Homo sapiens: one gene and its partners. The protein of the gene in region 3 interacts with the protein of the main gene of each other region in a pairwise test. Each region holds a gene or a part of one and is shown on either strand. Other genes may lie near its edges. The genes, in order: FAM107A, B4GALNT4, HTRA1 and CTNND2.

What was found.
Region 1: the proteins of HTRA1 (region 3) and FAM107A interact in a two-hybrid assay, tested with the Homo sapiens proteins (one study listed by BioGRID).
Region 2: the proteins of HTRA1 (region 3) and B4GALNT4 interact in a two-hybrid assay, tested with the Homo sapiens proteins (one study listed by IntAct).
Region 4: the proteins of HTRA1 (region 3) and CTNND2 interact in a two-hybrid assay, tested with the Homo sapiens proteins (one study listed by IntAct).

The regions. Positions count from the first base shown.
Region 1 is NC_000003.12:58,567,376-58,574,397, reverse strand, and holds part of FAM107A (actin-associated protein FAM107A), read left to right. Parts: exon of another isoform or gene 1-1,063; intron 1,064-1,607; exon of another isoform or gene 1,608-4,072; intron 4,073-4,532; coding exon of another isoform or gene 4,533-4,537; coding exon 4,538-4,707; intron 4,708-7,022. UniProt on the Homo sapiens protein: Stress-inducible actin-binding protein that plays a role in synaptic and cognitive functions by modulating actin filamentous (F-actin) dynamics. Mediates polymerization of globular actin to F-actin. Also binds to, stabilizes and bundles F-actin.
Region 2 is NC_000011.10:364,628-372,513, reverse strand, and holds the start of B4GALNT4 (N-acetyl-beta-glucosaminyl-glycoprotein 4-beta-N-acetylgalactosaminyltransferase 1), read right to left. Parts: upstream 3,016-7,886; 5' UTR 2,711-3,015; coding exon 2,560-2,710; intron 2,308-2,559; exon of another isoform or gene 840-2,307; intron 406-839; coding exon 302-405; intron 1-301.
Region 3 is NC_000010.11:122,485,542-122,492,563, forward strand, and holds part of HTRA1 (serine protease HTRA1 precursor), read left to right. Parts: intron 1-3,360; coding exon 3,361-3,460; intron 3,461-3,880; coding exon 3,881-4,085; intron 4,086-7,022. UniProt on the Homo sapiens protein: Serine protease with a variety of targets, including extracellular matrix proteins such as fibronectin. HTRA1-generated fibronectin fragments further induce synovial cells to up-regulate MMP1 and MMP3 production.
Region 4 is NC_000005.10:11,383,434-11,390,455, reverse strand, and holds part of CTNND2 (catenin delta-2), read left to right. Parts: intron 1-5,226; coding exon 5,227-5,791; intron 5,792-7,022. UniProt on the Homo sapiens protein: Has a critical role in neuronal development, particularly in the formation and/or maintenance of dendritic spines and synapses. Involved in the regulation of Wnt signaling.

The DNA of each region.
Region 1 (7,022 bases), on a different chromosome or scaffold from region 3:
TTGGCTGACTCTAGGAATCACCTAGGGAGCTTTTAAAAATCCCCAAAGCCAAGCCGCCCCCCAAACCCATTAAATCAGAATCCCTGTGGTGGGACTCAGGCACTGGAATTTTTGAAACTTCCTGTGGTGATGCCGATATGCAGCCAAAGTTAAGATCCACTGATTTAACCAGTGTGGTTTCTGAGGATGAGAAGGCTCCATCTAGGACTAGGAATGGGATTTATTAATAGTGATTGTTAATAGCAGCTAACAGGGTGGTCACACTGCCATTCCAGGGGCACCATTCACAGTTTAATCTATAGGAGTTGAGGACTTGCTGTGAGGTACCCAACCAGCCTGTTGTATGTGGCAGCCCTGGTAGCCAGCCCCAAGCGCTCAACTCTGTACGAGGCATTTGCCAAGCACCTTGCAAGTATCACCTCGTTTATGATATCACAAGTTCATGGAGGAGGATTCTAATGTAACGCTCATTTTGCAGAGGAGGAAACACCAGATCAAAAGCAGCTGTCCCATCTCAACTCTGCTGTTCAGTGGGAAACAGCCATAGACAATAAGTGGGCGTGGTGTGTCCCAGGGCTGTGGGATTTGGTCCAAAGGCTGTAGTTTCCAGGCTCCAGCTCCAGAGGGTAGGGAGGCATGGACAGAGCTGACATTCGAATGCAAGTCTGAATGGCTTCAGCCTCCCTATGCTACTGCTTCCTCCTGCATTTCTTTAACAGCCATGAAGAATACAAACAAGCCACTTACCTTTCTCCTTCGTGATTGGCCCGCTCCTCCTTCTCCCTGCTAGCTCTTCTCCTGGGTGTTCACCTTTTTCTTTCCAGAGAGGACATGTCTAATGCCCACTTCCCCTCTTAGCTGCTCCACAGCCACTCCCCGGATGGACCCCAGAGTCTTGGATCTCTCGGGATGCCCAGAAGCCTTGGGAACAACCCCAGTCCTCTGCCTCAGGAGGCCCAGCTGACCGCCCAAGACAGCCTGGATTTTCTTGGCCTGCCACCTGTGCTTTATTGAGTAGTCTCTTTTATAACAGGACCTGCATGAGGTTCTTCCACCCAGAGACCTTGGTTAAATAAATTAAAAGGCAGAAAGGCTGGCTCAGCTTTCTAAGTCCTGGGGGTCCCCAGCAACCCTCCTCACCCCACCCCTCATAGGTGTATACGTGGATCTCACAGGGGTTGTTTGCTGGGGTTCAGCACCCTGAGTGGCAAAGGCGATGGTTTTTCCCCTGCAGCTCTGAGCTAAGGCACCAGCCACATCCCTCAGGGTTCCTGCCTCACCCACCACACCAGCCTGGCCTCAGGGAAATACCATCATCCACAGCTCACTGCTGATTTAATTAATTTTTTTTTTAAGGCCTGGAGCAAGTCATTGAGCCAGGGCTGACCACAGATTGGAGCTGGGGTGCAGGACTGGCTTCATAATTGACAGGGCCCAGTGCAAAATAAAAAAGGAGTGCCACTTGTTCAAAATGCATTTGGAATTTCAAGACAACAACAACAGAAGGTCAAACCAAACAGGGCCCCTCTTCCAAGGGCAACCCTGTGTGACTGAGTCCGACCGTCTGGCCCTGGGGCAGCCAACCCACTGGCTGGCCGGCAACTTACGTATGGGGCGAAGGTCTCAGCCAGGTCAATCACAGATTTTTCCCCTGGAAGTTAACAGAAGAGACAGAGACCACCCATTGGAAGTGAAGGAAACCAAAGTCAAAACATCCCAAGGCCTCTGATGGTTTCCCCACACAGCAGCGAGAATAACCTTTTTATAACTGAATCAGGTGCGCCTTTCCCCGACTTGAACCCACCCGTCCACCCTCACTCCAGGCGCTCTCCCAGTCTCTCAGCTCACACCACTCCCAGCACACTATGTCTTTTTGTTCCCTGAACAGACCCAGCTTGTTCAAGGTACATGAGTCACACATGCTGTTCCCTAGGCCCCAAATGGCCTCCTTCCTCATTCTCAACTGTCAGATCTTAATGTCGCCTCCTCAGAGAGGCCCTCACCACACCTGGCTGACAGCGGGTCCCTCCTTAGTCTCTATGGGAGCCTGGAGCCTTTTGTGGTCTTTCGTTTTCATTGGCTTGTGTGTGTGCTGACTGTTGGCCTCCCCAGCAGAGTGTGGGTTCTGTGAGCGCCGGGATCTCACTTGTTTAGTTCTCCTCTGTGTGTCCAGTGTCTACCACAGTGCCAGGAAAATCACAGGAACTCGAACATGTGTGGAATGCATGACTATTTTTATTATTACGCACTTTCTCAGTGGTCATTCCCGTTACTCAGGAGCTCTTGATTTTGTGTACTTATTTTGTATCTGGCCACATTCTTGAACTCTCTCAGTTTCAAATGCGTTTCTGTTCATCCATGTGGGAATTCTGGGTGTATGGCTTTATCTATACAAATATTAAGGCTGCCATCTCCTTTCCTAAAGTTATCCAACTTATTCTATTTCCTACCTTATCACTTTGGCAACATACAGTGAGTTCTTTTAAGGATGGTGTGGCTGATGAAAAGCAAGCAGCTCTGGAAGATTTGGGGGGCACAGAGGGACTAAGAACAGGTGAATAGCTGGGGAGCCAAAGTAGTTATTAAAGTGTGGCATGAGCTGAACAGGAAGAGAGCTGAGGTCACGGGAAGGAAAGAGCGTAGCTGAGAATTACTCAGTCAAAGGATGGGCGACACTTGACAATAGGAATAGGCAGCAAAAGAGAGAAGATCTCAAAGCTCCAATCTGAATCCAGGTGTTCTAATACGTAAGCACCCAGAGAGCTTGATCCCACAGACAATAAAATACCCACACTAAGGAGTGGGAGCTGATACAGCCAACTATGTATTTTGTCGAGTGCCCATTTTAAAGTAACTCTAAGTACTATTATGATCACTTTTTAAGGACCAAAAAATTAGGAAGGATATAACCTGAAAGCAAACAGCCTTATGAAAAAGATGAGAAAAAAAGGGAAGTTAATAAGAATTCTCATTACAGAAATGGTTCTGAGAATATGAATTTGAGAAAAAAATTAACATGTCTATCCTCTGACACTTCACCTGGCTACATCCAAAATACCTTATAATAATTAACACTTTTTCCAGGTTACACAGCACCTTTACGTATGTGGTCTTACTTGCTCCTCCTAACAGCAGCCTGTGATGGGTCATCATAGAAATGCCAAACACGGGTCTGGTGGCCACCGTTGCAAAGTACAGTCTCCTGTTTTATGCCCAGATTCCTGACATATCACCTTGCAACGTGCACCCCGTCAAACCCCCCTCTCTGTATTTTCTGACCCCAATAAGCTGTTTGCCACTTTCAGGTTTTCACACATCCCTGTTCATCCATGAAACTGCATTTGGGCAGAGAATGGTTCTCATCCCCTTCCCAGTGTGGGGGAGGAAATGAGAGTCTGTCCACAGGCAACATGGTGGCCCTCAAGCAGGGGCTGAAGCCTGGTGTTTGAAATGGGGACACACTCCCTCAGTTGCCACATGAAAATCACATGCCACCGGGCACTGGTTCCCCAAGACCAAAGAAAACTTCAAAAGTTGCATTGGCAATTACCAACAAATGTGTATTGATCGCCTACTGCATACCAGACCAGACACTGCCAACTGTCAGGGCCTGGCATATAATAGGAGCTCAACCTCTGCAAAGCTAGACTCATGAAGAGAGCAGAGCTAAAGTCTAAATTTTCACTGAAATTCCTATAAGCAGCTAATGGCCAGGCAGTGTCTATACCTTTGAGGCCTTTTTTTTTTTAAGTCAGTCTCTTTCTCTCTCTCTCTCTCTCTCTCTCTCTCTCTCTCTCTCTCTCTCTCTCTCTCTGCTGTATTTGCTTTTGGGCATTTCAAGGATAAGGAGCCAGTTTGTAGAAGAGGGAGCCCTTGTGTCTGAATTTTAAGTAAACTGACAGATTTCAAACCGCTGTGGTAGAAGTGGGGCCATTGAGTAGCCAAACATTTGACAACTATCCCTTTGCTATTAGGGACACAGCAGTCTCTGAATTTCATGCTCTCCTCTTTGATGTGAAGAAAATGAAAAGCTGAACAGTTGTGGAACTGTGGATAGAGTTAGACAATAAGGGTAATACTTTCTTTTTATCACTGCATTTATCCAAATTGTTTTTAACAAGTACATGTTACTCTTTTTAAATATATTTTCCTTTTCTGTTACAAGCTCATTGAAAAACAGAAACTCAAACATAATTCCTTTTATAGTGGGCGAAAACTGTTGCAAAGCCAGGCCAAAAATATGCATGTGTCAACCCGTATTTTGTGACCCGTTATCATTTTACTTCTATACTCCAGACACATCGCAAACATCATCTCCAATTCTGACAGCCCTGTGCATGCGTTCCGTTATGATTTCCATTTTATAAGTGAAGAAACTAAGGCTCAGAAAGTCAGGTAGCTTGCCCAGGTATGCGCAGTAGCAGGTGGCCAAGGTCCATCTGACATGAAAACCTTGCCCTTCAACTGTGTCCCATGGGGCAGGGTGAGATTATAGGCTCAGCTCTGAGCTACTCCTCTGCCCATCTCTACAGCCGCCATGTACTCGGAGATCCAGAGGGAGCGGGCAGACATTGGGGGCCTGATGGCCCGGCCAGAATACAGAGAGTGGAATCCGGAGCTCATCAAGCCCAAGAAGCTGCTGAACCCCGTGAAGGCCTCTCGGAGTCACCAGGAGCTCCACCGGGAGCTGCTCATGAACCACAGAAGGTAGGGATGAAGCCCTGCTGCCTGGGCCCCGCAAGCACCTGGGCCTGTGGGGGATGGGGAAGGTGACCCTGGAGGAAAGCAGAGCTGGCTTTCATCCTGGGGCTCCTGGAGACTGAGGAAGGCTGAGGTGCCCCACATGATCACCGGCAAAACCTGTAAAGACCCTGTCCCCAGTGGGTCCCTGGGAACCAGAGGGACCAAAAAGCCCTGTTCTCTTGCCCAGCCACCCATTTCATGCCCACACTCCAGATACATTTACTGAGTACCTACTATGTGCTGGGCACTGAGCCCAGACCTGGGGATACAAGAATGAATGGGACCCAGTTCCTGTCCTCACAGACAGGGACGGGTGCATAGCCAGGCAGTAGGATGGGTGCATTGATGAGGGCATAAATAGGCCTGAGACCCCAGAGGAGGAACCCGAGAGGGGTCTAAAATGACTTCACAGGAGCGGTGCTGCCTCAGCTATGACCTGAAGGGGGACTGGAGTTAGCCAGGCCGGAGGTGGGTGCTGGATGGCAGAGGGAACCTCATATGTAAATGAACAGGAAACAGGAGTCACTCACTGTGCCTGGGGCATCGATTGCGTGGTGCAGGCCAGGGCAGAAGGATGGACTAAGGAAAGGTCTACAGCAGGGGCACAAGGTGTGGTGGGCCCGTCTGGTGAGGTGGGATGGGGGAGCTCACAATACCAAAGTGGGCAGGAATGTTACAGAGGCCCAGGATGGTGGCTGGCTTTTCCGTGGAAGGCCGTGGTGTGCAATGACAGAGACGAGCCAGAGGGGCATCTGGGAGGTGGCAGGGGTGGGATGGGGCAATTGATGGGATGTGAATTGGAGAAGAGGAAGGCTGAGCCTCCCCTTGGAGGACTGGGAAATACTCCTGCTAACCAGTAACAGCGTGAACGCAGCGGTGCCTTCAGAGCGCCCTCTGCTGGCCGATTCTGGTATTAGAGCCGGTTGTGATTTCTATTCTTGTTTTCAGTTGTGTGACCAATATCCTAACAGTTATCATTTTGTACACTGAGTCGCTTTTGTTTTTGTTTTCAATTAGTATTATAATATGAGCATTTTCTCTGAATGGTTTTTAGACTCGTCCCTTTAATATCAAAAAACATCACCACAATCAAAAACAAAAGCTTAAAGACAAATCAGAGAAAGTATTTGTAATATAAATAAATTTTATTTTTAAAACTCACATATACAAAAAAAAATTCAGATCTCTTGTTTTTTTTCTTTTTTTCTTTTTTTTTGTTTGAGATGAAGTCTCGCTCTGTCGCCCAGGCTGGAGTGCAGTGGCGCGACCTCAGCTCACTGCAAGCTCCACCTCCCAGGTTCATGCCATTCTCCTGCCTCAGCCTCCCAAGTAGCAGGGACTACAGGTGCCCGCCACCACACTCGGCTAATTCTTTTGTATTTCTAGTAGAGACAGGGTTTCACTGTGTTAGCCAGGATGGTCTCGGTCTCCTGACCTCGTGATCCGCCCTCCTCGGCCTCCCAAAGTGCTGGGATTACAGGCGTGAGCCACTGTGCCTGGCCCAGATCTCTTACAATGGACAAGGAAAAAATGAATAAAAAGTAATACAGTACAGCCAGACATGGTGGCTCACACCTGTAATCCCAACACTTTGGGAGGCCGAGGCAGGAGGATCACTTGATCCCAGGAGTTCAAGGCTGCAGTGAGCTATGATTGCACCACTGCACTCCAGCCTGGGCAACAGAGCAAGTCCTTGTCTGTAAAAATAATATTGATAATACAGTTAATTCACAAAAGAAGAAATGCAAATGGCTGGTAAACATATCAAATGTTGTTCCATGTGACTAATAAAGAAACAAATGAAAAGCAGATATTCTTTCTGGCCTACCAGATTCTCAAATATGAAAAGATTGGCTGGTGATGGTGGGGAGAAATAGATGCTCTTGTACACTGTTCAGAGGAGGATACACTGGATAACCTTTCTCAGGCACAGATAGATATATGTACCTCAAATCTTTTTAAAGAGCCTGACCCAGCAATTCTACCTTTAGGAAAGTATCCTAAGAAAATAACCAGAAATAACATAAAACTTGGTCTCTGCAGTCAAACAGGCCTGGGTTCAAATCCTCATGTGGCCTACCTGTAGCTATGTCTTGGACTGGTATCTTCAGCCCTAGGAGCCTCAGTTTCTGTCCCTGTAAAATGGGACAGTAATGGGTCCACCTCCAAGGCTACAGGGAGGATTGCACAAGATAATAATGGGGGTTGGTGTCACCGCAGGAAGCAGCCCTGAGGCTGGGGGAAGCGGGAAGGTGATGGTCTCCTGACAGCTCCCCACT
Region 2 (7,886 bases), on a different chromosome or scaffold from region 3:
GTGGCACCTGGCACATACACTCAGACACCCTGGTCACTCTAGCCCAAGCAGATGCTTGGCCACCCCACACACTGACCGGCCGGCACATTCATGCACCTGCTGCAGCCCCCAGACACAGAGCTCCAGACAGGATGGCTGGTGCTGGAGCTCACACAGACAAGCTGTGCCGTGCCCCACATGTCCTGTGTCTCATGCCCCCTGCTGCGTCCTCCAGAATGGACAGGTTCTCAAGACACCAACACACAAGTGGCTTCGGGGTCTCGTCTCCGTGCACACGTGTTCTCCCCAGGGCTCTGCTCACCGCTTGCTCCTCTTCACGGCTCTCACTGGAGTCCTCAGCCCTCTGTGTGGATGGCGCAGCGTGGACCCCCCGGCCGTCGGTCTCACTGGTCAGCTTCTCACCATCTGCAGGTGGCACATGAGGCCTGTCTCGGGCCCAGGCTCTCTCCAAGGCCATTCTGCCTGCTGCTGGGTTCAGCTGGGCCAGGGACCCACATGGCCAGAGCAGGGCAGGCAGGCTGTGGTGTCTCTCACTAAAGCCTCTCCTTCTCATCTGCTTCCTCTGCCACCAGATGCCCCTCCCCCCAGCAAGGCAACTTCTTCTACACCCCACCTCTGGTGGGGCAGCCCAGGCTGAGCCTTCCAGCAGGCTCTTCCCAACCTCCAGCAGGTGTGAGGGAGGAAAGCCGGGTGGGCCAGCTGGCGTGTGTAGGCACCCACATGCACCTCCATCTGGCCATTCTTGTTGAGTGGCTCTGCCTCCAGGAAGACCCCAGGACTGCCCTGTGCCCTCAGCACTTTCTCTGTGTGCTGGAGTGTTCCACGTCTGCCTCCCTTACCAGAACTGAGAACTCAGGGTTAGTGCCAGGGACTGTAGTCTCTCCTGAAGGATTTGAGCTCTCAAAGTCTGGACTGAGGAACAGGCATGGATGCTGACGCCCAGGCATGGCCCTGGAGCAGAGGGTGGCCCTGGATTGAGTGTCCTTGGGTAGGAGGACCAGGAGGGGCAGAATTGGGGTGAAGAGAAGCATCCCTACAGATGCTCAGATCCCAGGGCGTGGAACCCCCTGGGGCTGCAGTGGGGATGTCTAGGTCCTCAGCTTAGGGAGGTCCAGGAAGTGGAGAGGGCTGGGGTGCAGAGCTGGCCTGCCCAGGCTTGTGGGGAGGCAGTAGAGATGTCCACAGGCAGATCTGGGAAGGGTCCCCCAGGGCTCCCCTGACTTGGGCCCCAGGTCCCCCGACAGAACAGTCTGCTCACTCGCCCTCTCCCTGGGCAGCTGTTGGGCTCCTCTGGTCCTGGCCCTAGCCTCAGAGGTAGCAAGTGTACAGGTGCCCTGGGGCGGAGCTGGCTTAGCCTCAAGGGGTCCTTGGAAGAGGGGTCCCTATGCCTCCGCCCCCTCCTGGTTGGGCTTAGACCCCTGCGCTGCTCAGAAAACCACAGAGGAGCCTGCAGAGGGGGCTGGTTTTGTTCTGTGTCACTGGGCCAGCTGTGGATCCTGCCCTGTCTGCTGATAGCTGGGGTGGGGCTTTTTAGGGATTCAGCAGTATCGGGGGTCTCTTGAGGGTGTGGAAGCTGTGAGGTATGTGGGTTGGGACAAGCCCCAGACCCTTGGCCTGTGTGGGTCCAGGCGTCCCGGTACAGGAAGAGAACACAGGGGCTTTGGCAGGTGGAGTGGCCCAGGAGTCCCCAGCCAGTATCATTGTTCTGCCCCCTCAGGACACCTGGCTCCCTGGAAAAGGCTCAGAGGCAGCCAGCTGGGGTCTCTCCTGGTCTGGGCATGGCACTAACCTCCCTCCTCCAGAGGGGGCATTCTGCCCCACCTTCTCCCCCAACCCCACCGCCAGGCTTTCATCTGCGCCTTCCTGTCTGGAATGCTCTTTCCCCCAAAGGTGTATGTCAAAGATCACCATCTCCAGGAGGCCCTACCCCGGCTGGCTCACCGTGACCCCATCTGCTTTGTTTGTGGGTTGGGGTTGGGAGAGTTTACGCCAGGCTCCCCAAGCTGGGCCCCATCCCTACGCATGGACCCCCACAACACTGGCACAGTTCACCGAAGGCGCCCCCGCCGGGAAGCGTCCCAGCTGCACCGGCCACTTCAGCAAGCCCCGGCCCGGGTCCCCAGCACACAGGGAAACTGAGGCCCTGCTAAGCGGGCAGGGGGTGGAGGCGAGGCCTGAGAAGGCCTCTTGGAAGCCTCAGCAGGGTCTAGGGGCAGAGACTTCCCCAGGAGCCCACCGTCAGCCCCTCACTACCGGATCCAAGCCAGATCCCAGAGTCAGGGACCCTCTCTGGGAGGGTCGCGCGCGTCACTGCCGACGTCATCGAGCGTCCGGGCCGAGCCGAACCGCGCCCCCTCCCCCCAAATCGCAGAGCGGAGAACAGCGGGCGGGGTCTCCGGGAGGGTCGGGCCCAGCCGAGACCTCTGTGCGGTGGGAGGCCCGGCCCGCGCCCCGGGGCCCCCGCCGCCCGCGCCGCCCGCGCCCCCCGCGCCGCCCGCGCCCCCCGCGCCCCCCGCGCCGCCCCCGCCCCCCGCGCCCCCCGCGCCCCCCGCGCCGTACCTCGCCCGTAGCCCAGGCGCTGGCGCAGCGCGCGTCCCTGGCGCACCAGGCCCAGGTGCACGTAGGTGAGCCACGCGGCGCAGCTCAGCAGCAGCAGCAGCAGCAGCAGCTTCATCTGCTTACGGATCTTCTTCACCGGGAGCCGCGGCATCGCGGCCGCCGCGCCCGCCCCAGGCCGCGCTCAGCGGCGCCGCTGCAGCCCCCGGCCCCCGCCCGCCCCGCGCCGCATCCCCGGCCCGCCCCGCCGCGCTCAGCGCCCGCGGCCCCGCATGGTCCTTTGTCCGCCGTGCGCGGCCACCGGGTGCGGCCGCGACCCCCCCAGGCCGCCCTCGGCCGCGGGCCCGGGGTGGGCGGCGGGGGCGGCTCCTCGCGGTGCCCCCCGCCCGGCCGCTCCCGGCTCCGCGCTCCTGGGGCGGCGGCGGGACCGAACAGCATCCACGGCTGCCACCGCGGATCGGGCCCCGGCCGCGCGCGCGGAACCAATCGGACCGAGCCAGGCCGCGGGGAGCCAATGGCGGCGCGCGGGGAGGGGTGCGGGGCGCGGGAAGGCGGGGCGGGGCGCGGGGTGCGGGGCGGAGGAGGCGGGGCGAGGGGAGGCGGGGCGGGGCGGGGGGTGCGGAGGGTGCGGGGCGGGGGGTGAGGGGTGCGGGACGGACAGGGATGCGGGGCGCGGGGCGCGCGTCCACCTGGGCCACGGAGCGCGGGGGCGCGGCACACAGACGCGGGGCTGGGAAGCGCTGGGGCTCGGGGACCGTGGGGGGCGGCGGGGGATGGGCACAGCCTGACTGTGGGGCGGGGCGGCCTCCCGAGAACAGTGACCCGAAGGACTGCAGGCGGACAACACGGAGGAGGGAGGGGAGGGACCCGGGGTCCTGGGGGGCGGGGAATGGGGGCGGGCGAGAGAGGCCGGGGGGCGGGGGGGCCCAAGCACCGGCTTCAGCCCAGGGGTGGGAGTCGTTGCGGGATCTCAGCCTGCAGGGCTGGGGCCGCAGGGGGCCGAGCTGTCTGGGCGGCAGGAGGGGCCTCAGCTGGTGGCCCCCGCCCCACCGAGCGCGGCCTGAGGCAGGTGACAGTGTCGTGCCTCTCACCGGGACCTTGTCCCACTTCGTGCCCTTTCTCACCTGGTCTGCACCAACCCCTGCCAGTCCCTCTGTCCCCCCAGTACTTCCCTTGTCCAGCTGCCAGCGTGACCCTACTCTTCTCCCTCTGTCTGCTCAGCTGTCTCTGGGTGTGTAGCAAACCGCCCAGCTTCAGTGCTGTCCAACAGCAGCGTTCCTGTGTTCCTGTGTCCTGTGGGTCAGGAACTCAGGGCACTCGGGGACAGCTCCTCTCTGCTCCTCGAGGTGCTGGCCTCCGGTGGGAAGACGTGAGTGGTGGGGCCGGCTCCGCGGGACAGGCTGGAGCCATCCAGAGACTTCTGCCCCAAGCCAGTGCACCCTCGGCAGGAATGGCTGGGCTCACCCCGGGTGGTTGGCCAGAGCGCCTGCAGGCTCAGCTGCCAGGGGCAGCCTCCCGGTCCAGCACACAGAGTGAAGCATCTTGGAGTCACCCCTCAGGTTTGCCACATGCCGCACGGCCACCCAAGTTCGTGGGTTGTGGGGACGTGGACCCCACCTCACAATGGAAGATTGCCCAGAAGTTGCCTTCTTAAGACCTCAACTCCTTCCCTCCTTCCCCTCCATCCTCCTCCCCTAACTTCTGAGCACAGAAGCAAGCTGGTTACATCCTGCTGTTCATACCGGCCCTTAAACAACACCCGGTCTCTCAAACCTTCCCCCACCCCATCAGCTCCTCATCTCCTGCCTCCTGCAGTCCACTTTTCATATTTCTGTTATCTGCATATTCATTAAAATATAGTGCCCCACCCCTTTTTGAGACAGGGTCTCACTGTGTCTCTGAGGCTAGAGTGCAGTGGTGCAATCTCAGCTCACAGCAGCCTTGACCTCCTGGGCTCAAGCGATCCTCCCACTTCAGGTTCTTGAGGAGCTGGGACTACAGGCATGCATCACCATGCCGGACTAATTTTTTGTATTTTTTTTTTTAACAGATTCAGGGTCTCACCATGTGTCCCGGGCTGGCGTTGAACTCCTGGGCTCAAGTGATCCTCCCGCCTTGGCCTCCCAAAGTGCTGGGATTCCAGGCGTGAGCCACTGTGCCCGGCCAGTGGTGCTCTTTTATGTGTCTCATTCTGTTTCTCCAAGTCCCATATTTTCTATGTGCATCTGTCTGGCTGTGCGTCTAATGCTTTCCCTCTTTCCACTGCATGGCACCCCATCCTAGGCACATTCATCCAGCCAGTGGACGCTACCTAGTATTCTAGTGTCCTGACGAGCCAGGGACTTAGGGGACACAGCAGTGAGCAAGACAGAAAAGGGCCCTCCTTTCATGGAGTTTACATGTTACTAGGCAGGGACAGACCAGTGAACGCATAGTCGCTTTGCTGGTGGTGAGTGACGTGAAGGAGATGAGCTGGGTGATGGAGGGAGGCCGGCTCCCGCTCCAGGGTCGCTCTCTGGGGAGGCAACGGCTGGCCTGACCCGTAAACAGGTTCTTAGAAGGCAAGTGTTGGCAATGTCGGGAGAGACGTGTTTGGGACACTTCATGGGTCCACAGTCAGAGGGTGTCCCCTGTGGATCCAAAGCATAGTAGGTACAATTGAGGGGCGAGCTGGGATCTGCCGGACGCAGATGCTCCATATGCTACCACATCCGTCTCGGCCCCTTCTGGAGAAGAACGGCCACCGCCTCACTTCGGTGTGACCCAGCCACAGAGGAGAAGGTTCTGGGAAATGGGTCTCCAGCTTAGAATAAGAGAACAACCTGGCCGGGCGCGGTGGCTCACGCCTGTAATCCCAGCACTTTGGGAGGCCGAGGCGGGCGGATCACGAGGTCAGGAGATCGAGACCATCCTGGCTAACACGGTGAAACCCTGTCTGTACTGAAAATACAAAAAATTAGCCGGGCGTGGCGGCGGGCGCCTGTAGTCCCAGCTACTCGGAGGCTGAGGCAGGAGAATGGCGTGAACCCGGGAGGCGGAGCTTGCAGTGAGCCGAGATCGCGCCACTGCACTCCAGCCTGGGTGACAGAGCGAGACTCGGTCTCAAAAAAAAAAAAGAGAGAACAACCTGGCAGGTTCCTCCTCTTGACAACTCAGCACAGACGCACACTTCTTTTAAAAAACACATTTAACTTCCAAATAAAGCAAAAAACAAAGTCATGCTTCTACGTAACATGATGCAAATATTCCAACCAGAAGGGACTGAACAAAAGGTTCGTGTCATGTTATCCACATTTGAGAAGACGATCCTCGTTCTTCTAGTTTCTCTAAGAGCGTTTAACACTTGACACTGCAAAGTGCATGTTGGGGGTTGGATGACACAAATACTGAGATGAAATGTAAAGTTAACTGTTGTTAACGCATTTTATGCAGCTAGGAGGGCAATGGAAGAGGAAAAAAGCAGGAAGAACGGATAATGTCAGTACAAGTGTGACTTGTGTGAGGATAAGAAGTACTCACTTCTACGGTCACCAGGTCGTGGCTGGTACAGTCTTTATGGCCACGCTCTTCCGTCACTCCTGCGTGGTCCCTTTGCCCTCTGCAAGCACCTCTGCTGGTCGTGGTTCACTGTCTGGTGGGGTGACCCAAACGTTCCTTCCCAAAAGGCCTATGCTGTTAGCAGTTTTGCCTTATGGGGTGGTTCTGGTTTTCCAGTGGTGTTTTCTGCAAGGCTTAGAGGAGCTACGTGATATTACAGACGATCTCCTGCCTCCCAAATTTCTCCCCCTTAGCCCCATTCTGTGATCAGGTTCCAAGTTCCCCTTGTTGGGCTCAGTCAGCCGGACCAGCACAGGGACCCTCTTCTTTGTCGACCCCCTGGTGTGAGGAACCGGCGTCCAGGTGGGCAGTCTCAGCTTCCTGCGTAACGTGTCCCCTGGTGGAAACACTCCAGGGCTTTCCCAGGACCGAGGGGATTCCTAGGACATGGAACTTTCCGTTTTAAACCTGGGAAAGTCGGCTGGGCGCGGTGGCTCACGCCTGTAATCTCAGCACTTTGGGACGCTGAGGCAGGTGGATTACCTGAGGTTGGAAGTTCGAGACCAGCCTAACCAACATGGAGAAACCCCGTCTCTACTAAAAATAAAAAATTAGCTGGGCATGGTGGTGCATGCCTGCAATCCCAGCTACTAGGAAGGCTGAGGCAGGAGAATTGCTTGAACCCAGGAGGCGGAGGTTGTGGTGAGCCGAGATCGTGCCATTGCACTCCAGCCTGGGCAACAAGAGCAAAACTGAGCCTCAAAAAAATAAAAAATAAAAAAATGAAAATAAGACCGGCAAAGTCTTAAGCAAACTGGGATGAGTTGGTCCCTGGGAATCTGAGGCCTCTAGACCAACAGCGTGCAACACTGCAGGGGGCAAAACTTTCACTTGTGGCTCACTGGGGATTAACGACAATGGGAAGAAGTTGGGGTTTCCACTCCTCCACGCCTGGACCAGTGAGCCCCGGCTTTGGGAAAAGCCAGAGATTAAGTGCTGATTCAGTGGATCCGCTGCATCCAGAGGACCCCAGATCCACAGCATTGTCACTCAGCTGGTGCCAAAACTGAGCCTCCCAAAGGCCATTCCATCAGGAACACGGCGAGATCTGTGGGTTCCAGGAGCACCGGCCGGTTGCTGTCCCCAGGACAATGGCGATGCCGCCATGAGGAGCACCCCGTGGGTGGACGAGGAGCTCTGAATGTGTGGGGTGGTGGTTTGGGCAGAGGCATTGAGGGCACTGACCATCCACAGCTGGGGTGGGAGCCCATCCTGCTGGGACAAGCATCCTCCATGGTGGAGGAAGGGGCCAGTGTTGGTCTCCGCTGTTGGCTGCGCGGTGCCCAGGGTAATCCGCTTCCCACTGCTACAGCCACTTGGCCCGACTCAGGACAAGGGGAGCTGGGGAAAGAGGCTGCCTGATGCGCACAAATGGGTCATTTTGTCCGTCTGACTATTAGGGTCCCTCCTCTGCTGAGACAGGTCTTTGCACACAAATTCTTTATGCTCTGCCCACCCCAAGAGGTCTGTCTACATACCTTCACCCCGACCGTTTCATCTCTAACTTTGTAATCGTGCCCCTCCAAGTGCCTGGCCATCAGCTAGACGGTCGGCCGTGGCCGGGGCGTCCACGGAACTCTGCCTCCTCCTCCATCCTGCTTGCTGCTCGGCCCTGCGAGGACCTGCCTTTGCACCTGTCGTGCAGGCCTGGCCTCCCACACCCAGGTGAGGACCTGCCTTTGCACCTGTCGTGCAGGCCTGGCCTCCCACACCCAGGTGGCGCTGCCGTGCTG
Region 3 (7,022 bases):
GAGGAAATGGAGGCTGCTCAGTGGACTGAGGCTGGAACTGGGCCTTCCAGTGGCCAGGCCAGATCCTCCTTGATCTCCCTTGTTGCTTTCCTGGTGGGAAGACCCTGGAACCACTTTATGTGACTGTGTGAGAAGGGAACTGCCTCTCATTTTACCCAGCAAAATCCACCTTCAATCCATCTTCATTTTTGCCCCTGGTGTGGGCAAATTCTCCCATACCTAATTCAGGAAGCCAGAAAGAGGAAGTGAGTTAATGATCCTTAGTGGGAAGGCGCTGGTAATGGTCCTTCTTGTGAGAGTTTCTGAAACACCACGCTGTCTCTGTGTTCTGGCCTGGCTGGAGTTAAACCTCTTCTTGGCCTTTCCCCAGGAAGCTGGTCTGAGGAAGCCCAGATGCGTTTGTTTACAGCTGTCTGGTGACATTCGCCAGGCTCTGTTTTCAGAAGGAACATTTCCATTCCCTTATTTACACCTCCCATTGGAGTGCTCGGGGGGACACACCAATTATTTGCAACTACCTGGAAACCTAGGAGGGTAGCAGATCTGTAGGAGGCCAGTGTTGAAGTGAGAAGCTGTAGATCTGGTGACACTGTGGGCTTGGGAGGGCTTGCCCAGATCTGTTACTTATACTCTCTATTAAGAAACTTCAGTGTCCATGGAGAAGTTATTTAAAGTCTGCGAGCCTCAGTTTCCCCATATATAATATGGGAAGGATACCTGATTTTCCTATTCCACATGAAGGTAGAAAAAATTAAATTAAGGCAGCCAATGAAAGGGTTTTGAAAGCAAAAATAATAATATGATACTGTTCTGAATTTGTTAAATTATTCTTCCAAGTAGTTGCAGATCTTTTTCTGTACCTTAGAAAAAAACCATGCTATGTAAAAGGAGATGATTCCAATCTTTAAATAAAGCAACTCAGAGGTCAGGGGCTAGGACAGAAAACGGCCCTTTGTTCACAGAAGCGCTCTCACTTCCAAGAAAGCAAGCGTGGGAGAGGCAGGTGGTCCTCCCGATGTCCCTGTGCCCCATGGTGTCAAGCTGGGTTACTATGGCCCTTCGTGACCCAGTGCAGCAGGGATGTGGGAACCAGTGGGTGTGAAGCTGTGACGGGTCACAAGAGGGCTGGGACGTCTCACAGCTTTTACTTATAGCCTAGAGCCTGGGGAAGGGTTGCCACTCTAGTGATGAGAGAGGCGTGTGTGTGTGTGTGTGTATGCGTCTGTATGTATGTGTGCATTTGCATGTATATATGTGTGACTGTATGTATGTGCACATCTGTGAGTATATGAATGTGTGTGGAAGTGTGTATAGGTGTTTATGTGACAGTTTGTGTGTAAATGTGGGTGTATGTGTGGGTGTGTTTATGCATGTACATCTGTGGGTGTGTATGCATAGTGTGTATGTGTGAGTTTGTGTGTGTGTGTGCATTTGCATCTCTGTGTATATATGCATGTGTGTTAGGGGCAGGCACACAGGCCTGTTGGTAAATGAGACACAAAATACCTACAAAATACAAAATGTGAGACAGGAAATACAAGCCCCAGTTACTCATTTTTCAGTGCAACAGACATAAGATTACCATGTGAAATTGCTATGAAAGTTTCCGAAAGCTTCCTGTCAATTCGTAGTGAGCAGCTAGCAGAGGAGTGCGGGTCCCTGGAGCCTGCTTGTGCAACGCTGAGCTAGTCCAAGGGGGAAGAATGGGGTGCATGGCTCTCAGCTGCAGACCAGCCTGGAACCTCTCCAGCCTGCTTTAGCAGAGACTTGTTAAGAGGTAGCAGCAGGTGGCAAGATTAGGAGCCGGAGTAGTAGGCTAAGGCTGCACTTCCAGGGACACACTGCCTCTGCCACCACCCGTGCCACGAAAATGGGAGCCCAGGACCCTGAATCTCTAGCAGTCCGTTTCTGAATCAGTTACCTTGGGTATGTGCCTCTGGTTGATGGAAACTAACTTGTAGCCCTGCTGGGTGAGAGCCTCACATCGGGACATGTGACAGCTTTGTTGAAAGTAGCTTTGGAAACGCCCACCACGTGGGGCCACTCACTGTAATATAAACGGTCATGCATCACTGAGCAACAGGGATACGTTCTGAGAAATGCGTCGTTAGGCGATTTCATCACTGTGGGAATGTTACAGAGTGTGCCTACGCAAACCTAGATGGCAGAGCCCACTCCACACCTAGGCCAGATGGCAGAGCCTGTTGTTTCTAGGATGCACGCCCGTACAGTAGGTTACTGTACTGAATACTGTAGGCAGTTGTAACAATGGTGAGTATTTGTGTATTCAAACATAGAAAAGGTATAGTAAAAACAATGGTGTTATGGTCCGCGGCTGGCTGAAACGTTATGTGGTGCATGACTGTAGGTATAAAGCATTACAGTTGTTTGATTTTTCTCTTTTTCTCACCCACAGTCTTAAGGCACCTCTTATGCCTTTTGTCTGGGATGTCCCGGGCAGGGTTGGAACGTGTGGTTAAGGCATGGCGGAAACTGCTTTGGGGACAGACGATGGCCTCAGCTTGCCTTGGGGTGTCAGTGGGAAAGATAGGAGCTGCCCCTTTGCCTTCGTGTTTCTTCGTAATAATCTCAGATGTACCCGTCTGGTGGGCCTCTCCTAGAAAAAGCCCCGGTGCTCTTTGCTCCTGCGGTGTTTCTCAGGAGGGTTGTTGCTTCTTTGTAATGGTGGGGACTCAGGGAAGGGACGCAGGCAGAGGGTGATGCCACATCAAAAAGGGACCCTTGGCTGGGTGTGGTGGCTTACGCCTGTAATCCTAGCACTTTGGGAGGCCGAGGCAGGTGGATCACCTGAGGTCAGGAGTTCGAGACCAGCCTGGCCAACGTGGTGAAACCCGGTCCCTAGTAAAAATACAAAAATACAAAGGTGGTGGGTGCCTGTAATCCCAGTTACTCAGTAGGCTGAGGCAGAAGAATCGCTTGAACCGGAGAGGTGGAGGTTGTGATGAGCCAAGATTGCGCCATTGCACTCCAGCCTGGGTGACAGAGTGCGACTCCATCTAAAAATAAACTGAAAAAAAACAAAAAACAAACTTGGGCCATCAGCTTCTTGGAAAGGCTGGTGTGAGGTTGAAGCATTTGCTGGTGCCTCTGCTCAACGTTTTTGTGGTGAACCTGAGCAAAGAGGTTATCATTAGTGGATTTTACTGCCTTACCTGGGTGGGCACTCCCTTGGGAGGTGGATGGACATTTGCAGCTGAGCCCAGGTGGGGGAATTGCGCTCACTCCGCCTTCAGAATTCCAAAGGCTGGGCATGCATCTTGGCTTCCTCTAACCCATGTCTTTCTCTAGGTGGCCACAGCAGAGTGTCATTAAGTATCTATTCTTTGCTTTTGTTCTCAGGGCAGGAAGATCCCAACAGTTTGCGCCATAAATATAACTTTATCGCGGACGTGGTGGAGAAGATCGCCCCTGCCGTGGTTCATATCGAATTGTTTCGCAAGTAAAGAGAGCCTTCCTTTTTCCTATAACCTCCGAAGCTTTCACCGCCACTAGCAAAACATGAGAGCTATTTTTGAGATACATTAAAGTGTCAAAGTGTCACTGAATATCTTCCTACTTAAGATAAGTGTGTCTCCCTTAGAACATTTTCCCTATTCGACTATATAAATCTACATTCTTGACCCTTCTGAATGTTTAAAGAACCTCGGGCTCTGAAGAGATTCTCTAAGAATATTTTGTAAGTGGAAGTTTTTGATGCATGCAAAAAATTGGCAGGATGTTTAGTGTTTAAATGCTAAGCCCGATATATAAAGGAGCGATGGCTAGGTGTGTGTGGCTGTTGCACAACCCATTAATCAATGCGTTGAAGCGTTCATTTTAAGGTGCTACAGGCTTAAGTGTGTACTCCTTTGGATTTTAGGCTTCCGTTTTCTAAACGAGAGGTGCCGGTGGCTAGTGGGTCTGGGTTTATTGTGTCGGAAGATGGACTGATCGTGACAAATGCCCACGTGGTGACCAACAAGCACCGGGTCAAAGTTGAGCTGAAGAACGGTGCCACTTACGAAGCCAAAATCAAGGATGTGGATGAGAAAGCAGACATCGCACTCATCAAAATTGACCACCAGGTAAGGGTGTTCTCGCCTGCAGAGGTGAGTTCTCAGATGCCCCGGAACACCCTTGGCAAAGGCACCAGAGCTCTCTGATTGCAGCTGATTCTCGGGGGGCACTGAAGCCAGTCTGAGCCAGTCACAGGAGGGCCTTGAGGAGATGCTGAGTATGGCCTGGGGGTGTGGGAGAGGAAGGGGCTCAGGAAAACTTCTGTAAGGAGCCAGATAAAAGTTTTTAAAATAATGTTTTAAATGTTTGTCAAAGAAAGCAATAGATTTGTAAAGAAATTAGTAGGTAAGTAGTGAAAATTGATTCTCCTTCCCATTCCCAATCCTGTGGCAACTCTTGTTACAGATTTTATTTATCCTCCACAGATACATCATGCGTTCACAATGAACATAGAATTTACTGGGTTTTAGACTGAGCCATCCTTAACTTGTCAACAGTTACTTTGAAAACAAACCAGCTCTCCCAAATTGGGGTTTTGCGGGGTTATGAGATGTGTTTCAAAAGAATGTTTCGTACTTTAAACATCTTGGAAAACTTGAATTAAAACAGAGCTAATGGATTTCTTCTTTCCAGACCTTCTCAGAGCTTTTAGTATGCTAGTGTGCACGTGGCTTGCCTACAAAAGGGTGTTGACTGAACTATTTGCCCAAATTATAATCATTTGAGTATACAGCTTTTTGTGGGGGCAGGCAGAACTGAGACATACCAAAATCAGTTTGGGAAATGCTGTATTTGAAAATGCTTTCTATTTAAATATTCTCTTTGCAATCATTTTTGCTCTGTTGATTTGCTTAGCAAAGTCTTCATGTCTGGGACAATATCCATTTCTTACTGACTCATCAAAAACCCCCACTCGACACGTCGATGAGAGAGGTTTTGTTTGCTGTGTGGCATGTTCAGTGAAAGCGTGGTTTCCAGTTTCTTCACATCCTTATAATTTTCTAGACTTCAGATGGAGGGAACAATCAGAGGAGGCTGGAATCCTGCCTCTGACCAAGGAAAAGACCAGAGGCTGAGCCAGGTGGGGTCTCTTGTCCAGCCCTCTGCTTGCCTCGCTTTACCTGGGTGTGGGCTGAGTAATTCCAGACAAGCGTGGAATTAATCTGGCTGTTTGTGCTGTTCAGTGGCACGCTGGTTACACCTCCTTCTGGAAACAACTCTGCGTGTGCTGTTTGGGTGGTAGGATTCCGGGTCTCCTTCTCCGTCTTTTTATAACATCAAGTTGCTGCCCAGCTCAGGCTCCTTTACGGCCAGTCTTCAGAAAACCACCAGCTAACACATTTACTACCCTCCTTCCCCGATGTTCCTGTAGCTTCTCTATGGCTGGGTGGCCAGGCATGGCCGAAGAGGCTCTGGGTAGATATAGGCTCTGTGCCCGGTGTGTGTAACTGGCCTTGAGTGAGGCTGCAGTTGTGTGTTATTTCTATTAGGTCACTGTGGAATTTCTAGCGACAACTAATCTTTCAAAGTGTGTTTATTGGTCACAGGATTATTGGGCCAGCCTCTGCCTTCATTCTTTTTCACCTAATCTGCATAATAGCTGTGTTATCCCCATTTTAGAGAAGAAGAAACAGGGGCTCAGAGAAGTCTAGTAACCTGTGTGAGGCCACACAGCAAACACCTCATGACCCTGCCCTCCTAAGGCAGCCCATGGCTACTGCTGGAGGGATAGAGGCCGGCCCCGTGGTTTGATGGGACAGCTTGACCTTAAACAGCCCATGGGAAGGCGGGTGCATCTGGTTTAGGAACAGGCTGCTAGAAAGGTATCCAGGATGTGGTAGTCTCACCGGAAGGAGCCAGTCAGAATAGCACAGCCTGTGGCCACGCGTGGGACCTGTTCAGCCTCATGGAGCTTTGGGAGGCAGCCAGCAGCAGGGCATGGGCTGTGTGCAGGCGAGGCGCTGGCCTGGACGCCGCCCCCACTGCGTAACTTCGTGTTTGGAATGCGTGGGCACATACCGTGCGGCTGCTTCTGGCCGGGGGATATTCTTTTCCAATTTTGAGCCAAGGTGGAGACTGTCTCCTCGTGCCATCCCTGGCATGTCCTGGCAAGACGTGAACGATCTCAATAGACGAGCTTTGCAGAGTGTGTCTGACCTGACTCCTGCTGTCTTGGGAGTTTAGCTCTTCAGCCAGCAGCATGCTGTTTGACATGTGTTTCAAGCCCCCCAAGAAAGGGTGCTTGAAATTTAAAATTGAACTGATGTGGCTTTTCAAAATGGAATTGGAAATGAAAGGATATTAAATTGCAGACACCCACACAAAAGACTGGTTTCCACTGACTAAACTGCTTTTTTTTGCTGATAGTAGTTGAAAGTAGGGAGAGTAACAGCATCTCTTCCAGCTTTTTCTCTTTTGTTCCCTTGTTTTGATGATGGGTTATTTCGGGGGAAGCTCTGGCTGGCCTTGCTTTGTGTCATCTTAGGGATAACAAAGAGGATGAAAGAGATCAGGAAAACCGAGAAGGCAGAACAGAACCAGCAGAAACTGTGCTTGAGGAATGAAAATCACCTACACGGCTCCTTGTCATATGAGACTGTGGCCCAGCCTCCTGCAAAGCCATTTAAGAGTAACCCAGTGAAGCTGGTGAGACTGCCTGCCGCGTCCGTGGGCCCAGTGACTAACTCGGTGGCTTATCATCTGGGCCCAGCTCCTCCCCTGGCATCCTGATTTCACTTGGAGGGGCCCCCGTTGTCCTTCATAAACATGTTTATTTCATTTTATTTTTATGTTTTGAGACAGAGTTTTACTGTTGCCCAGGCTGGAGTGCAGTGGCGCCATCTCCGCTCACTGCAACCTCCACCTCCAGGACTCAAGTGATTCTCCTGCCTCAGCCTCCTGAGTGGCTGGGACTACAGGCGTGCACCACCATGCCTGGCTACTTTTTGTATTTTTAGTAGAGACCGGGTTTTGCCATGTTGGCCAGGCTGGTCTCAAACTCCTGA
Region 4 (7,022 bases), on a different chromosome or scaffold from region 3:
TTTGTTTTGTTTGCACTGCCAGATCCCCAAAGAATGAGGATTGAATAAATTTTCAAGTTCTGAGAATTGTCCCCTTATGACTCCTCTGCCATTCCTACTCCCTCCATAGAAGATTCAGCGTGAAAGAATCTGGAAGCAAATGTGCTTGGCACTAAAACGAGTGCCACTTTCTGGTTTAAGAGTGCCATATTCTTAGGGGCTCCTACTCCCCCAAAGAACAGTGTCTTAATTGTGGCCAGATAGTATTCTGTACAAACAAAAATACTCCATCGATAGATCTCCAAAATAACATCAAAGTAAAATACTCCATATAAGGGAATTGTTGAGAGCTCTTCAAAAACAAACTCCTCATTTGTACATGGTGTAGACAGGTCAAGCATCCCTTGTTTGAAATGCAGGGGATCAGAAGTGTTTTGGATTTCAGATTTTGGCGGGGGGCGATTTTAGAATACTTGCGTATCCATAATGAGATTTCTTGGGATGGGACTCCCCCCCAGTCTAAAGACAAAATTCATTTGTATTTCATACATAACTCATAGCCTGAAGGTAAGTTTATATGACATTTTAAATAATGTTGTACATGAAACAAAGTTTATGTACATTATACCATCAGAAAGCAAAGGTGTCAGGTGTAGAATTTTCTACTGTGACATTCATGTCAGTGCTCAAAATGTTTGGGATTTTTGGATTTCAGATTTTGGATTTTCAGAGTAGGGATTCCCAGACTGTAGTAGGCTCTTCTTAATGGTTTATTGAGTCAGTGAGTAAATTAATGCATCAAACTTGAGTACTGTTCATTAATGGCTGTTGGAATAATGTACATATTCCCTAACTTCCCATTTCAATATTTTTTCTACTATACTTTGTAAATACATCCTCCCCTTAAACAGTTCTATAAAATAGATATCAATGCATCTACAATTACACAAGAGGCCTCAATATACCACTAAGTACACACACACACACCATGTAATGTAAAAATTGTGACACTGAATATATCCTAAATCTGACCCATCTGAAACATATGTATACAGATAAAATAATTTGTAATAGCTTTGATGAGTTAATGTTCCATATTTTTCTTGAAAAATTTCCCATAAGGGAAACAAGAACTGAACTACACTTAATGTGCACCATACTCTACCTATCAGAAACTGTTGAATCAGAACATCTCCTTGATGGGGTTGTTTATCTGTGAACATTCTGCTTCCTTGTCCATTTCTCGTAAATGGGTTCCTCATTTTGAAGGAGTGGGAAAGACAAATAAAGTTGCCCTCGAGGCTGAGACTGATCCAAAGAGCTGAGAATGAAGACAGAGTCAAGAATTGTCTCTGCCAACAGCCTAGATGGTGTGACCAAGGATGGGGCCCAATCTATTCCAAGTATATCTAAATTTGTTATATCATTATTTTTATTTTCAGAGTCACACATCAATAAAAAATTATTTCAACTGTCTTTGCATGTACACACACATTTCCAAATATCTGCAGGGAAGCAGTATGTAGTAATCTTTAGTTTAAAAAAGGAAAATGAAACTTTACTTGAATTCTAACTTTAAAATCAGATTTGCAGCTTTATAGTGCTAACATACTTTTAAGGTAGAATTGAACTCTTGTGACACTAAAGTGAATACAATTCTGTATGTGTTGGAATGTGTTTCGATTATCTCTAATGCAACGATGGGTAGTAATAAACTGTCCTATGATTGTGCAGCTGGCTTGAATGACAGCCTCAGGTAACCTTAACTGACAAAGAGTTACTAAATCAAATTCGGTAGTGAAAGAAAACATAAGCACAAGGGTGAAAAGAGGCTCCCCCAAATTTTGTTTTTATTCAAATGATGCTACAAAACAAATTTCTCTGTTTAACCAAAGAATAGTTCTTAGGCATTTATTACTCTATAAGCCATTGAAATGGAGTATAGCACCCCTGGTTTATTTATTGTAAACTGCAGAGGAGCTTAGACAACTGTGCTGTCCAAGAAGGTGGCCACTAGTCACATGTGGCTGTTTAACTTAATTAAAGTTAAGTATGTACTGAAGTTCCTCAGCTGATTAGCCACATTTCAAGCTGTCAATCAGCCCATGTGTTCAGCGGTGCCATATTGAGCAGTACGGATTGAGAACATTCTCTACGTTGTAGAAAGCATTGCTGGTAACACACCAGTGTAGCTGGTGCTCCTGAGAAGGTGCTCTAGTTGATAATGGCTTCTTATGCAAATGGATTCAGGAGGCTTTTTTGGAAGTGCATTTTAGTACACAGTGGACAATACCACTTACTATGTTAAACAGTATATAAAATTTTATTGTTTATACTTTTCCTTTTTTCATGCCAAAATTATTAGCACAATTTTACCAAGATCCTATAATATCTAAAAGACTTTCAAATTGGTTGCCGTAGCTTGTCAAAATGTCTACAGCTCATGTGGCAGTTGTCAAGACTTCTACAGATTTGGGGTGCATTTAAGAAAACATAGGAGACAGTCGTATTCAGCACTTAGTACACCTGAGACTAGATGTTTTGACAGATTACAAGAAAAATAAAGTATTTGTAAAAAGCATTAAGGTTTTCACAGGATATATGTTCTAATATTTAAATATTAGAATGAATACCGACTTAATATTCTCATTTACATTGGTATGCTTTAGTTAGTATTTATTAAAAATTATGCTATTTGGTAATGGCATCGTTAGTGTACTCTAAGGTTGTTTTATTAATGTTACATAGCCAAGACATAACAAAAAGTTTTTGTTTTGTTGTAAACAGGGAGCAGAGAGTGCTCCTGAAACCTTAGAGAAAGGGTTCTTTCTTCTCATTTTGTTCCTGTGGGAAGGGTTTTCAGAAATTTTTGTCGGATGCTTTTCCATCACTTGCCAGCTGTGTTCTGCATGGCTGAGTGTTGCTCAGGCCCCAGTTGATAGGGAACCCCAGTAGAGCTTCAGAAGAAAAATGTCTGCAGCTTAGTGGTAGTTCTCAGAGCAACAGCATTTGCCTGCTCTGGGAGATTGTTAGAAATGCAGACTCTGGGGCCCACTCCGCACCCTCCAAATCCAAGTGTCTTCTGGAGCAGTGTTGGCAAACTTTGACCAGCACCATAATCACCCAGAGTACTGGTTAAAACCCAGATCCCTCAGCCCCTCCCCCAGAGTTTGTTCAGTTTATGGTGGGGGTATGATTCTGATTGCTCTGATTCCTCTAGAATTTTTTTTTTTTTAATGCTGAAAAGACCATCAGGGACCTCCCTTTGAAAACCACTGCTCTAGCGGGACGTGGGACTCATGCTTGGTTGCACAGTGAAATCACCTGCTGAGCTTCCAAAAAAAACTGATATATGGTCTCACCTTCAGGGATGCTGAATTAAATAGCAATGGTAAGTCATGAGTATTGAGATTTTTTTTAAAAGCACCCTTGGAGATTATAATATACAACTAGATTTGAGAAGCCCAATCTATTTAATACATGTTTCATGCTCAGAGCTGCCACTGGGAGAGAAGCAAAATTGCATCAAAGCCACCCCCTCAATGACTCTGGATGAAGCTAGACTATTTCTCTGGGGCTCAGAGTAAGCACACCCACATCTGTAGTGTTCGTTACCCATCCTCCACATATAAGACCCTCATAGCCTTGAGACTAACTTGAGGAACCATTCCACAAATATTCCTGGAGTCTCTGCTAGGAATCAGGCCCTGTTCTAGTTGCTGGGGACACAACATTGAACAAACTCATGGAGCTTACATTTTACTTTCACTCTTAACATTAAAATAATTGCTTTATGGATTGCATGTGTGTGTGAGAATATTTAAAATATATATACCGTACATAAATACATATGCATACACATACACACACTCTGCATAGAGAAAGTCTCTCACCAAACTGTTTACCTCCTATGCCAGGCTGCTCCTAATAGAGAATTTTGATGTTGCTCAATTAACTCCTTCAGATCTGCATATGAACTTGACATCCCAGATAAAATTTGGAATGCCTGTGTATGTGCAGTGAAAGTGCCCAGTCTATTATTTGCCAATTGCCATTCCAGAACGGGTAGAGAGGCATAATTGAAACTTTTAATGGCTAGCATCTGTTCAATCTTCTCTTCCTCCCTTCCCTCGATCTCTCTGGAGTCCTCCTCCCCACCCACCTCTCATCCCTCATTTCAAATCCCTCCTTCCCAGCTTCTCTCCAACTCTGTGTACAATCCTACTCCCTTTTCACACCAGCAGGCTCTCAAAATCCTCTCTGCTCCCCGGGGAAAGCCTGGAAGATCTGAGACCTCCTGCCCAGAAGTGGTTGACAATGTAGTGTTTTCATTCGAATGCAAATTTGTCTCTGGACAAGATTCAAGGAAAGTGCTTTCCCCTCCAACTGTCTCTCCAGCTCCTCCCCAGCCCTTGTTGTCTTTTGTGTTCTTGTAAATAAATGAGAGGCGAATGGCTTTCAGTTTGAAGACACAGCTGCAGGGGGCTCTTAAAGGGAGCTAGAGAGAGAAAGATGCTGAAAGATTGGGAGCCCAGTATTAAAATCTAGAAAAGGGAGGCTTTTTTAGCATTCTCATTTCCAATTGCTCTAATTCCTCTAGATTTTTTTTTAATGCTGAAAAGACGAAGCGAATTCATTCTGACTTAGTATTTTTCCCTCCGTTTAACTTTTCATTGTCCAAAAAGAAGAATCCACGCGACAATAGCAACAGAATAAACTGTAAGAAGTATGTTTATTCTTGATGTTCTCCAGATAAGTATGTAACTCGGCCAATCTCAGAGGTAGAAAGTGTATCTAATGAAATGACCTGGGGCAAGGGTGGGGAGTGGGGGACAGAAAAAGATTTACTGCCCGAATTTCTCATTAAAACAAACAGATTGTGATTGCGACCAGGGAGATCATGATTGCCCTGTCGGGGTGGGGCTTTAAAAATCTTTATGTGACTAATGCGATGCTTCTGCTATTTCCGAAATAACATCTACATGTAAGCAAACACAGGTCTCATTTGTCAAACGTGACTTCCCTCCAGTAGTCAGCTGGCCTGTGCCAGTGTCAGGACAAGAAATCCGCCCCAGGAGAGTTCGGGGCGCAGGTTCGCGTACTGCCCCGAGCGCAGCTGGGATCGCAGAGCCGCCGGGCGCCCGCGGCATCCCCGGTGTGCCTCTGCTCTCGGGGCCGGGCTGGGCCGGGTGGGCCGTGTGCTTCTCCCTCGCTAAGTGCGCGTGTTCTCTCCTCTCCCGGGCACAGGGCACGACCAGCCGCGCCGGCCACCTGGCGGGGCCCGAGCCCGCGCCGCCGCCGCCGCCGCCGCCGCGGGAGCCGTTCGCGCCCAGCCTGGGCAGCGCCTTCCACCTGCCCGACGCGCCGCCCGCCGCCGCCGCCGCCGCGCTCTACTACTCCAGCTCCACGCTGCCCGCGCCGCCGCGCGGGGGCTCCCCGCTGGCCGCGCCCCAGGGCGGTTCGCCCACCAAGCTGCAGCGCGGCGGCTCGGCCCCCGAGGGCGCCACCTACGCCGCGCCGCGCGGCTCCTCGCCCAAGCAGTCGCCCAGCCGCCTGGCCAAGTCCTACAGCACCAGCTCGCCCATCAACATCGTCGTGTCCTCGGCCGGCCTGTCCCCGATCCGCGTGACCTCGCCCCCCACCGTGCAGTCCACCATCTCCTCCTCGCCCATCCACCAGCTGAGCTCCACCATCGGCACGTACGCCACCCTGTCGCCCACCAAGCGCCTGGTCCACGCGTCCGAGCAGTACAGCAAGCACTCGCAGGAGCTGTATGCCACGGCCACCCTCCAGAGGCCGGGCAGCCTGGCAGGTAAAGGCTCGCTGCCACCTGGCGCGACTCACCTGGGCGCGTGGCGGGGACGCGGAAGCAGCAGCCCGGCTTGAGCAGAAGCGAAGCCGGGCGCGCTGTCTGCCAGGTTGTAGTAGTTGCAGGAGACAGAGAACGCCAGGGCTTTCCTGGAACAAGTCAGTATCTTCCCTACAGTTTGTCAGTGACTTCTTTTCCGGAGTAATGTGGTGTCTCAATCTCTAACACCTATATCACTCTCTTCTCTCCTCTCTTCTCTCTCTGCCCTCTCCCCAGCCTAAAGACTAACTCATAAAAGTAAGACACATTTAGGAAAGCATCCCATAGACCTGTTGATGGTATCCAGAAAAAAAGCAAAACAAGTAACAGTTGCAGTATTGACAGGGTCACCTTTAGTTGTCTACATTTCATTGTGGAAAAAGTAAGGGATTTTCTCAAATTAGACGTTCAGCTTACATAGTTTTCAATAGTAGTGGGGAAATAATTAATAATGAATTGCCTTGAATTATTACCCTTTTGTTTTGGCTTGAATTTATTTACATCTTTGCTAAATTAGTTATTGGGAAAACTAAAGGACTCTCCCATACCTGTCATTGGATGTACTTGGGTCCTAACATTTGCGACAAAGTTAGCAATGATGAAGTCCCTTAAATTTGTACCTGCTTTATTACAGGGAGGGAGGGGCTGGGCTTGGGGAGAGAAACCTGCTTTCCTCTCCCAGTTTAGAGGAGGTGACATTTCTGTGGTCGTTATGCCCGTCAGCGACCAGGCTGCGCTGGTGCCTCTCTGCTGTTAGCACCATATGCTCAGCTTAAACAAGACACCATGATTGAAAGACTAATGTTTTGTCTTCTGAAACACCTGACAACTAACCCGGATTTATTGTGAATTTTTTTTCCCTTACAGAAGGATTTGGTAATTGTGTCACTCTAGTAACAGATGCTGTGCTCATATGCTTCCTTTCTTGACACAAATAGATGACTGTGAAGATAAATAGGATTTAAAAAAGGAGCTTGTTGCATGCATGAGGCAGGTGGCCAAGGGCTTCTTTAATTCAGCACAGTAATTGCCAGTGTGGACTGGCCTGGCCTAACAGGATGCAGGCTAGGGTGCCACTGCCCACAAAATTATGCTAGCTACGTTTACTGAAATGAAAATATTCTCTCACTCACTGCCTCTCTCTCAAATAGAATTTTTGAGGTAGACAATTATTAGTGCCAACCCAGTATGAGTA